2 separate regions of the Homo sapiens genome follow, and region 1 is linked to region 2. The links come from fine-mapping of genetic effects on plasma protein levels. A gene starts in region 2. The other region holds a variant in brackets. All regions are shown on one strand. Distances are between the middles of the regions.

Region 1 (3,687 bases), 49 kb before region 2:
CCTGTAATTCAGCCCTTGAGGTTTTGGGGGTCTCATCTCCCCTTCGGGGTCCAGTAAAATGAAGCCAGCAGAGCCTTGTGCTCTGGTCACAGTCCACATACAGCATACGTACATGCAGGCCACCAGTGTGACAATGGGGAACCATGGGTGGCCCAGGAGGTGCCTCAGCCTCCTTCAACGTAGGCCAGTTAGGAAGTCCAGTGTAGGTCTGGCTTCCCCAGGGCACCTTGTGTCTGTCACAACGCAAGTAGGCATTGCATGTCTTTAGTGCTGTTTTTCATAAACACAGAAATGCTTCTGCTGCATGAGCAAACATTTGCAGACAGCCAGCAGACTGTTCCTGGCTGTTGGATCCAGAGAATTGGAAACAATCTCTTGATTGTGGCTTCTGCCCCTCTGGGTAACAGGGTCCTTTGGGATCTAGAGCCACATCAGATGGCATGCTACAAGAACCAAATGCCCAGTCCATACTTGCTCTGAGCCAGTGTCCTTCGGGGCCGTCCTGAACACTGCCACCTCTGAGCGTTGGCATCCATCTGCTAGGATTAGCATTGGAGCTTTTTTTGAAGGTATTTTGAAGTCTAATGGGAGAGGACTTTGGTTGAAATACCTGAATTTTTACCTAGGCCTCCTCAAGGAGTTGGAACAAAGCTGATCGAGGCAGAAGCAGCCCTATACCTCCTGAATATTGGCGTCTTTTTTTTTTTTCTAAAAAGCTTGCTGTATCTTCAGCTGCGTTCTTATTATTTATTTATTTATTTATTTATTTTTCATTCTTAAGGTGTGGCAGAGACAGGGTATTTGGGATATACTTTTCAGACTCCCCCGGTCTTATTAATTCTCGAACCTTCTTGATATTAAAACAAGATGAGCCATAGTCATGGTCTAGCTCTTTTCCCTTAACAGGTCCTGTTTTTAGCACTTTTGTTCCTGCTGCTTTAGGGTTTGGTGCTGGAAGGCAAATGCACTCAGGCTCAGAGCTAGTTGCTGGTTGCATTTATTTCCACAATATACAGAGTCTATACACTTGTCTCACTCTTGGCCATCAGAGTGTCATGGTCAGGATGTCTAGACTATCTAGTGCTCTGTGTTTGGTGTCTAAATGGTGAAAGGGGATCAATCTGGAGACCTTGTGGCTTAAAATGATTCATCCATTTGGCGGGTTGGGTTTTCATGTGCACTGTGTGCAGCTTGAACATAGAATGTGGTTTTTTAAAAAGCCAGCATTTCCCCTTAATGCATCATTTTAAATGGTCCTGCCGCTGAAAAATCTGGTGTGGTTTTATTTCTAACACATTTGGCTTTCTGTTAGTTTATGGGCATGGTAGTTCCCCCTCTAGAAAAAAGCATAGCTTAGTTCCTACCTAGAGTGACCTGAAAAGACACATTCTAGAACAGACCAGGTGTCCTTGGAGATGTGGAAGGTGCTGGGGAGTCTCCCTCGTGGTGGCCCTGGATGGAGACTCTGTTTGATGTTCCTTAGGAGCTTTGTGTGGTCTCCTCCCCGAGATGTAACTGGCACATATGCACTGCTTCAGACACGAGCCCTTTAACATGGAAACTGGAATCTGCCCCGTTGTGGGAGGGGGAGAGGGAGGTAGCCTTGACCTGGGCCCAGGGTGCTGTCCAGCTCCCTGTCCTCTGGCTGGATTGGGACTGAGGAGCAGTGGGCGTAGGCTTGCTGCTGACTGGTTGTTCTGTGCTCTCTTCAGCAACCCAAGGAGATCTGTGCGCTGGTTGGGTTCTGTGATGAGGTGAAAGAGATGCCCATGCAGACTCTGGTCCCCGCCAAAGTGGCCTCCAAGAATGTCATCCCTGCCCTGGAACTGGTGGAGCCCATTAAGGTACCTGGTGTCACTTTGTGTCCTGGTCAGG[G/T]CTGTGCAATGCCACACTACTCCCTGCTGTGTCACATCACATCTTACGAGTCACTTGTTTCTTTCGGTTCCCTGCCTGGCTCCTAAAGGTCTTTGAGTTTGTGATCACTGGTTTATCCTATCCCCTATACTAATGCAGCCCCCGACCCTGAGTTCTTTTGAAAACATTTTATTTCCTTGGTTGTAAACCCTAATGTTCGTGGGATCATTAGCCTGTGTATTTTCAGCATGCCATTCAAAGGTGACTTTGCAGTGCCTGGCTTCAGCCTCACCTTCTCACATGCACTGTCTGGGTCCTTCCCCATCCTGTGGCCCTGACAGACTGGATGTTCCCAGCACACCCCTCAGAGTGTACGGAAGCCTCACTGGGCCTGCAGCCTGTATACTAAGTACATGTGGGTGTCTATTTTATTTAACTAAAACACCTCACTTGGTGAAGATTAGACTACTTCATCCCATAATAAATTTGTATTTGGCATTTATTATGGGTCAGGCAGCATGTTAGGGGCTGTGGTGAACAGATGATGTCATTGTGCCCGTGGGGCTTACATTCTAGTTCTTCAAGGCCTGGGCTGTGTGATGCCTTAACACGTGGCACATGTACACGCTTCTTGTTCTAGAACATCCCACGGCACTTGACTGCCAGCTGTTGGTCTCTCTCTGCTGTCTCCTCTCTGCATGTGCAGAGTGTGTGACCCAGGGGCCAGGCCGAAGTGTCAGCTGGAATCCAGGAAGCACTGCTTCTTGCCTTCCTCTCCACCGGGTGCTCCTCAGCTCCAGCCTGCTGACCAAAGTGACGGCCAGAGAAAGTGAAGAGTTATAGCTCGCACTCCAACCACATGTGACTACTTAAATTTTAATGAAATACCATGGAGCAAAATTAAAAATTCAGCCCCTTGGCTACACCAGCCACATTGCAGGTGCTCAGTGCACAGGTAGCTGGAGCTTATAGTGGACAGCAGAGATAGAGAACATTTCCATTGCCACAGAACATCCTCTGTAACAGTATTGCCTTATTAAAGGTGGGTTCCAGAAGAGCATTCTCAAGTGCTAATGAGACATGGGAGACACACGAGCAGACCTGAAGTGTGTTCAACATTCTGTCTTCTAGATAGTGGACCGATAGTGAGCCCCTCACTTTGCTTTTGGTCCTTCATCCTCCTCCCCAAAATGAACCCTGAATGATGAAATGATTGTAACCGAACACATCATCAGGACAGCTCTTCGGGGTGGGGAAGGGACTTTCTGTCTCCTGAACTGTGAATTCCTGGGTTTTGTTTTGGTGGGGTTAGGGGGAGGTGGGGGTGGTAGAGGATTGGGGAAGGGGGTGAATGTAAAAATAGGGAATTAACTTGGATATTAGAAGCCACACGCCATTTGGAATTCAGGAGGCAGTGGCCCTTGATGTGCTAACCCACCCTGGTCTCTGTGTCCCCTTTCCTTTAGGGGAGCAAGACCAAGGGCTGTGAGTCCCAGCATTGAAAGTACTCTCCTTCTACTCTTTCCACAGAAGCACGAGGTCCCAGCAAAGTCTGATGTTTACTGTGAGGTGTGTGAATTCCTGGTGAAGGAGGTGACCAAGCTGATTGACAACAACAAGACTGAGGTATGCTGTCCTCCTGGCAGAGGGAGGGCCTCTCCTGCCCCCCCGAGCCTGAATGTCCCAGTGGGAAAGTCCCACAGGAGAGAGGGCTTGGCCCAGCCTTGACATGTGTACAGCCATGTCCCCATCTCGTGGAAGGCAATCCTCACCAGTGGGACCTCTAGGCTGGCGGGGGTCCGGGGAGGTGGACACCATTGCCCTGCTTTGTAG
Region 2 (8,000 bases):
TTTCGTGGGCAGAACTTGTTGACCTGTGAAAAATAAGACTCACAGAACATAACTTCATTCCAAGAACAGCTTCTACAACATACTCTCCTGTGATCGGCCATCTCTGCCAATGCTTGAGTCAATTGGACCACAAGTAATATTCAGCTAATCAGAACTCGGCAATCAGCACTCAAGAATCAACTAGAAATGGTTCTTGCTCCTGCTTCCTGCCTTTCTCCACCTGGGAAGATGTCCCCTGTGGACTAACTGCCTTACCCTGGCTCCCTTGCTATCCAGCTTCCTGCTGGGTGTGGCCAATGGGAGGCCCTGGCTGAAGATGAAAGCAGTGGGGAGAAAGAGGCGGGGGTGTTTCTTCCACACTCCCTCCATTCCTCACTGCGGTTCTGCCCATGGCTGTGTTTCTCCTGCTTGGGGACAGGGGTCCCCCTTTCATAGCACCAGCTTTCACTGGGCTCCAGAACATCACTTCCTCTTCTTTCCCTTTGGACATGTGAGTGGTAGTGGCTTCCTGTGGTTGGTGCTAGTCTCTGGGTGCTTTACCAGCCTTCCTAAACAGTCCCTGTATTAAACTCTCTTCAGTTGAACCCTTTCTGAGTGTGCCATCTGTTTCCTGCCAGGACCCTAACTAATACAAATCATAATGAGTGACTAATATAAAATAATAAGGTGTTAATCACTGCAAAGGTGTCTGGGTAGAGAGAACGTGACTAGGCCATTGCCAGGCCAGAGAACAGAAAGCAGGTGGTACAGACAACTCAATGTAGGCAATTTGCATATGGTTTTTTCCTTGGGACTGGCTGGCTCTGGAGCTACCACTGGAAGAATGGACAGATGGGCAGGGGATCTGGACCCAAGAAGGCTGTCACTGCCCCTGAGGAGGCAATGATTCCTCTGATATGCAGCTCTGGATCTTGGGGGTGGAGGGCATTGGGTGTTTGCTGAAACGGTTTCCAAAGCAGATAGGGTTGGCAGCCTTGAAAAGGAGCTGCGTGGCCTTGGGCAGGTCACATCCCCTCTCTGGACCTTTTCTGTCTGTTTAATAAAGGACCTGGCTTGATTTCTAAAGTTGTTTCTAGCTCAGGGAGTTTGGGAGGTGAGTTTGGGAATGTGGGAAATGTCAGCATCCCCTCCCCAACAGGGAGGCTGGAATTCAGCCCCTTTCCTGCAATGTGGTGCTCTTGTATTCTTGCCGGCAAGTAAGGGGACTCAGGAAGGCTCAAGGCTGGGCCCCTCACCAGTAGAGAGTACTCACAGCTGCCTCCAGGCCCTGCAGAGCCACAAGATGGACATGGTGGCTTTCCTTGACAGTCATCTTTATTCGAATATTTGGGGCCTTCACCACTATTTTTAATGAAAACAAGCACAAACACATGATGGAGTGTGCAGGCTGCAGGGGCTGGGAGTGGAGAGTTTGAACAGAGTTGGGCCTTGGAGCCCCTCCTGCTCTGAGACCAGGTCTGGGCTTGGGGAGGGAAGGTGGGTTTGACTTCCTCTGGTCTCGGAGGGAGGAGAAAGTCAGTGCTCCAAAGGCCCTCTCAGCTGAGCCCTTCCTGTCCTGCCCTGGTGTTGAGGAAACAGTGCTTGAGGTTTCTGGACCATGGTCCTTGGGCAATGCCTGTGTCTCACCCTGATGCAACCCCAGGAGGCTCAGTGGTGGGCAGTGTGGTAGGGAGAAAGGAAGTGAAAAGGGGGGAGGGAACTGGGCCCAGCTCAGAGGCTCTATCCCCCTGGGGAAGGGGTTGGCAGGGCAATTGCTCCCCTTTCTCTAATTCCAGGCCCTCCCCGGCTGCTAGGCCCTGGGGAAGAGGGAGTCTGGTTTCAAGGGTGTCCTGAGCAAAGCCAGTCCAGGAAGGGTTGAGATGGGGTGGTGCTCTAGGATCTTGCCCTTAAGGGACCCCCCTCACTTGCCAGAGGATGTCAGGGTGAGAAGGGCCCGGTGTCCACCTGATCTCAGTTGGCTTTGTACCTCCCCTGGTGGAAGGGAGCTCATGCTATGCCAGCAGGAAGGGCCCTGGGCTGCCTTCCAAGGTGGGGTCACAAGGCCAGGAGCATGCCCAAGGACCTGGGTTATGTCCTGCCAGCCTCTGGGGCTCCCATCCTGGGGAGTTCACTGGCTCCAGGGGGACTGGGCCTGCACAAGTTCACTTAGTAATAACATGATGCCTCAGCCTTCCTCTGTTGTAGCCTTCCCTGCCCTTAGAGCAAGGGCTAAGGGCCTCCAGAGAGCCCGTGACTTGGATCAGGCCACCCACAAGGCCCCCAGGACTCCTGGCTCCCATTGAGTCCTGATACCCTGGTTCCTGACCCAGTCAGACTCTGAGTGTCCTCTGCCTCTCAGCCTAGGAGTCACCTATTAACCCAAGATCCCTAAAGTGCCAGAAAAACCCCTGGAAGCTTCAGCTAGACTGGGGTAAACTGAGTAAAATGGCTGTGCTCTTCCACTCCTGTGATCCCTGGTCCTGGCCACGATCACCTCTGCTCCTCCATCACACAATCACTCACTCACTCATTGGTTTGTCCATTCAGATAAAAGTGCAGTAAAACCTTCTCCACGCCCAGCTTTGTGCTAGGGTCTCAGAAACATCAGAGAGAGGTTTGTAGTTTCGCTCTGGAGGGCAGAACAGCCGGAAGAAGAACCAACTGCTGGTTATCTCAGGCTGGAGGTGGTAGCTGAAGGGGGTGTGGACAGTAAGGATTTGCCGGGAAAAAGGAAGGGTCAGGACATTTCGTGAAGTGGGAGGACTTGAGCTGAGCCCTGAGGGATGAGAAGAATTAGGAGGGGAGAGACATTCCAGTGGTGCCAGCAGTGCTGGGTGTGGGTGCAAGAGCAGAGGCACTAGAAGTTAGGGTGCATCAGAGTGTCCTGCAGATATCCAGGCACCAGGGAGGGAGGGCGGGTGCACAGCCAGGCGGACAGCTGAGGCCTCTGCCGGAGGGGAGCTTGCAGGATGTGCTGTGGGGCACGCCAACAGGTGTTGCCTGCATATCTGTGTGTGTCCCGGGGTAGGGATGTGCTGATCTTGGCGTGTAGTCCTGCACCTGTTCTGTGTGTGTGTGTGTGTGTGTGTGTGTGTGTGTGTGTGCGCGCGCGCATGCACTCAGGGTGCCTCAGGCTCTGAATCTACAGTTAAACTGGCTCCAGCTTGCCTAGCTCTTCACAATGTCAGATTTCATTCATTCACTCATTTACTCACTCATTCCACAGCTGGGAGTGCCTACCACATACCAAGCCCTGGTCTGGCTGGAGGATGTAGGGTACAAGTCTCTGTCCCCAGATCACTCAAAGGCTGGTGGCTGAGGGCAGATGCAAGCCATGGTAACGTCTATCACGCTGTTAGAGGTAGATCTACTTCTTAGGCTGCGCAGCAATAATAATTTCTCTCCAAAAGGACTGGGGGACGGTAGAACGGGCTTTAAACTGCCGATCAAGTGGAGCTGACTCGCTGGGACGCACGCTGGCTCCCCACCCACGGGGCCGGCCTCCGGGAAGCCCCTCCCACGCGGCCCTCGGAGAGGCAGTTCCCCCACACGGCCCCCCGGGGGCGCTGCGCGAAGGGGGCGGGTGCCTGGAGCACGGCGCTGGGGCCGCCCGCAGCGCTCACTCGCTCGCACTCAGTCGCGGGAGGCTTCCCCGCGCCGGCCGCGTCCCGCCCGCTCCCCGGCACCAGAAGTTCCTCTGCGCGTCCGACGGCGACATGGGCGTCCCCACGGCCCTGGAGGCCGGCAGCTGGCGCTGGGGATCCCTGCTCTTCGCTCTCTTCCTGGCTGCGTCCCTAGGTAAGGTCGGGGGAGGCGGGGCGCTGGGAAAAAGCTGGGAGAAGACAGCAGACTGGAGTGGGAACTGTGGGATGGGGGCGTCCTGGGGGCCCTCTCAGCCTGTGTGACCGTGCACCCCACTCCACCCACCGCCCAGAGGCTGCTGGGACCCCTAGGCAGGGTGCAGTGGCAACTGTGCCAAGTGCCCCAGCTAGGCATCGGGCACATCTGCATGCTCTGACAGCTGCCCAAGTGGCAGGCAGGGCTGTCCCCTGAGGGCTGCCTGTCCAGCCCTTCCCTGCCCAGAGAACCCAGGGCACAGGTAGCTTCTGCAAAGAAGGAGAGGCACAGGGTGGGGGCGGTCAGTGTGTTCTGGTGGATATCACTGGCTTTTGACAGCTGGCATCTTTCTGCCCCTCTAGTCTCAGGGCTCTAGTGTTGCAGAGGACACAGAGGGCGTGGTATGCTCAGCCAGTGCCCCATGCCCTGGTGAAACCCCTGGCTGAGCCTTGGTGGGCACTGGGCACTGGTCACGGTGGGTCCACTTTCAGACACAGAGGCAGCACTGCCCACCTGGTCCCTATTCTAAGGGTCTGATGGCCCAGGAATAAGTGGTCAGCTGATTCCTGCCATCCTAGCAAGGCTGCCACTCAGGGACCAGTGTGGAGTACTGGGGAGGATGTGGGACACTCTTCAGCTCAGCTATGAGCCCCTTCTGGGTCCCTGGATAAATTACGGCATCTCTCTGGCCTCAGTTTCCTCAGCTCAAACACAGAAGCCCACACAGGGAAGCACCATTTTCCCCTTCCAAAGTCCAGACTGTCAGCATGTTCAGATAGTATCCTGGCCCCAACACAGGGGCTCCCGGGCTGGGGGCAGAGGCCCTGGTACCCATGGCCTGGTTGCCTAGTTCTTGCCTGCCCAGAGCTGAAGAGGCTGGATCTCTTCAAAGAGCCTGTGGAACCAAACTTTATAGGGAGGGCCCAGGGAAAGTATGAGTCATGCAGGGACTCGGAGGGAGGCAGGAGGGAGGTGGAGGGCTTGGCACAGGGACCCAGTGGGCAGGATGGAATAGAAGGAGAGGGTGATAGGATAAGAGGGAGAGGAGGAGGCTGAACCTGGAAGATACCTTAGCAACCTGGGTGCCCACAGGCAGCTGGCTATCTCAGCACTTGGAGGCTGGCCTGGGCCTCTGAGGAGGAGGAGGGCTCCACATGTCACAGACACAGCTGCCCTAAGCCCCAGGGTGGATGCTTCTCAAGGTGACAGTCAGAGGGAGGAGGAGAATGGGAGGTGGAATGGACAGTCTCAGCACCAAGGCCATGGCTCATGGCAGGGCATGGCTTCCAGAAGGAACAGAGGATGGTGGCAGGCAGGCAAGCCAGCATCCCACCTGTCATGGGCCACCTGCCCTGCACTGCCCTCCCTGGTGGCCCTGTGAGACCCTTCCTGCTTTCTTGCCCACTTCCTGCCCTCACTTGGCTGGGCTGCCCTCTGTTCAGCAGCCCCAATTTGAGAAACATTTCTAGAGATCCAGGGCACAGGGACCCAGCTTGCAGAGCACCCAGTAGCAGAGAGGCCCCAAGAGGAGCTCAGGACGCCTTCCCCTATATTGCTTATATGGCCAGGGGCCTTTACTCCCAGAGGTCTTGGCTACTCAAACAACATGGTATACTAAAGGGTCATCTCTTCCTGGGCCCAGCACAGGGAGATGATTTAGGCTGGCTGCAGCTTTCCACTGAAAGGAGCCAGAAGCATTTGAATTGCTCTGGGACCTCAGGATTCTGAACTGTGACATGGACACACTATAATAGATATTCACCCAACTCCCTAGGACAGTGTGCACTGAGGGAGATAGCAGATGGGAGGCCTGGTTGCAGGCATGGTCAGCAGGATCTGTAAGTTGAGAAGATTGATCACCAGCCTGCCGAGGTGCTGGGTTGCCCTGGGTATGTTGCCCAAGGTCAAAGCCTTTATGCCAGGGAAAGTGAGATAGAGTGGCCGGGGCCAGCCTGTTCTCCAGCTCTTGGGGTTGGGCCAGCACTGAGGAGAATGGTAGTGATGAATGTGGTGTTCAGAAGCCCAGGAAACACCAAAGATACCCCTTTCCTGGGCCTGACTCAGGGTGAGATGGGTGGAGAGGTACACTTAGGGACCAGGACCCAGCAGATCTCAAGGGTAGCAGAGCCTCTTCTTCCCCACAGACATTCCCAGGACCCGAGGCAGTTACTGTCCTTGCCCTGTCCTCACAGGCTGACTCAGGACTCCCAACCTCTGGGACTAGCACATTTAAGTGCACTGGGGCTAGGGACGAGAGACCCCATCTTCTCCTTCATAGCAAACCAGGCTGCAGGGCCTTGTTGAGTAACCCAGTGCTGCAAGCCTCTGACGCAGCAATGGTCAGCTCTTAGGAAATCCACAACCCACTGCCCAGAGGCTCTGGAGTAGAGAGGAACAGCCTTGAGGCCAGTCCCTGGCATGAGGGGTCATCTACCCAATGCCAGGGACACCCAAGGGCCAGCAATACTGGGAGTCCCTTGCTGAGCTGTACTAGTTGTTCATGCTTCCACCCAAGCAGGGCAAAGGTTCCGCTGGGGTCTGACCTTCCTGGGAGAGGGTGGTCCAGGCAGGAGTGTGCTGCTGAGACGCTAAAGGGGTCACCTCCCTATCCGCACACAGTGTATGGGGTGTTAGGCCTGAGCAGATGAAAGGAAGAAAGGGATCCTCAAGGAGAACCCGTTGGCAGTGAGCGAGCCCCACATACCAAACTTGAGGCCCCAGGCTTTAGCCAACCAATGACCCAGGGTCAGTCTGGTCTCCCAGGGGAGGGTGGGCCAGGGATCAGCACTGTGGCTTCCAGTGGCCCCACAGATGCCCTTAGCTGCAGTCCCAGCATGCCTGTATATGGCAAAGCCAGGGACATGCATGCCAGGGCTTCCGTACAGCCCCTTGCTTAACTCTTGGGCTTTGTGAGTCACTCAGACCTAGGCTTAAATCCCAAGATGGCCATTTACTGCTCTGTGATATTGGACAAGTTATTCAGTCTCCCTGAGCAAGTTCCCCTCCCTCTAAAGTGGGAAGATGATACCACCTCCCTTGGAGGGCAACTGTGAAGAGCCAATGAACGAACACTTAACACAGCACCCGGCTCCTCGTGAATACTGTGTAATATTATGGTATTTCTTGGCTTCTGCAGGCCACATGCCATTGGCTTTCTATCTAAGCTGCTTGCTCTCTACAGGGCCTAATGGAGTGCCCAGGGCCTGGGAAGGCATTGGTGAGCTTCACTGGGACTAGATTCTCCAAAGCCTGGAGTATGAAGGGTGCATGGGCTGCGTCCAGCTACCTGTGAGCCCCTGTAGGCCCTCACAGTCTGAAATGCCCATGGAGGTGCCTACAGGTTCTCTTCTTAAAGTTGTCAGGAGATGGGGACATTGCAACTTGAAGGCAAGCCTGGCCCTGGGTTTGCTTATCTTGGTGGATCTTTCTTACATCTGATCTTTTTACATTCGGTCCATTCACTTTGGCTGGCCATCACCAAAGACAAAGACAGTGGCCACCATCTTTCTCATCAGTAATCCAATAATGAGGTTGCTCTGCTACTTACCAAGCCAAGCAAGCCCATTCCTTTAGCCTTTCTGCGTAGGATCTTATTTCCCATGGGGACCTGGGGTCAAACCCTGCCTCTGCTGTTCACTCATCATGGGAACACAAACACACACTTCCCCTTTGTCTGTGCAATGGACAGGTTGGGTGACGTGGTCTCAGTGAGGCTGACCACCCTCCTCTGAAGGTTAATTCCATGATGGTGTTTCCCTAGCTTCAGTCATTTGCTTATCACCTTTGTGATCTCTGCAGTGTCTGCCTTTCATAATATTTACTTATTTTTTTCTTTAAATCTACTCATTCTTTTATTTGAGTATGTAGATCTTTAAAAGGAAACTTTTTATCGCTGTCATTAGTGGAAAGCCAGTATCACTTGTCATAAATAGAACAAAACCATAAAAGAACGTAACAGGAAAACCATATAAGGGTATTGAATTCTAGTTGGAAACTTTAGCCTGGGAAGGCTCGGAGTCTGAAAACTGCTGCTTTCCCTTGCAAAAAATTAAAATAAAATAAAATTTAAAAAGAAAAGGAGATTAGCAAATGTTTTAGAGACATATTAGCATCAAACTGAGACTTTCTCTTTGATGTAATCAGGACTGAAATAATTGTAAAGGGAATAACCTCTTCTATATATG

Which allele goes with the higher level. Alleles are on the strand shown, and positions count from the first base shown. The strength of an association depends on the size of the effect and on how common the allele is.
With allele T in place of G in region 1, the plasma level of the protein whose gene starts at base 3,615 in region 2 is higher (weak association).

The links. A credible set is the group of variants that fine-mapping cannot tell apart. PIP is the chance, under the fine-mapping model, that this variant and not a neighbour inherited with it causes the effect. The UK Biobank Pharma Proteomics Project read protein levels with antibody pairs (Olink). The fine-mapping took linkage between variants from a reference panel, not from the people measured, so its PIPs are less certain.
Region 1: its variant is the best candidate, but not a certain one, in a credible set for the plasma level of the VSIR protein (UK Biobank, PIP 0.71).

What each region holds. Positions count from the first base shown.
Region 1 is chr10:71,820,033-71,823,719 of GRCh38, reverse strand. It overlaps PSAP (prosaposin), which reads left to right. Exons shown (of 14, transcript NM_002778.4): 8 at 1,713-1,844; 9 at 3,385-3,480. Among named protein-coding and RNA genes, the nearest start is that of PSAP, 29 kb to the left of the region's middle. The variant G/T (reference allele first, on the strand shown) is at 1,876.
Region 2 is chr10:71,769,135-71,777,134 of GRCh38, reverse strand. It overlaps VSIR (V-set immunoregulatory receptor), which reads left to right and starts at 3,615. Exons shown (of 7, transcript NM_022153.2): 1 at 3,615-3,777. The coding sequence starts at 3,696. All of the region lies in intron 38 of CDH23 (cadherin related 23), which reads right to left. RefSeq lists silencers at 3,386-3,715, 3,736-3,815.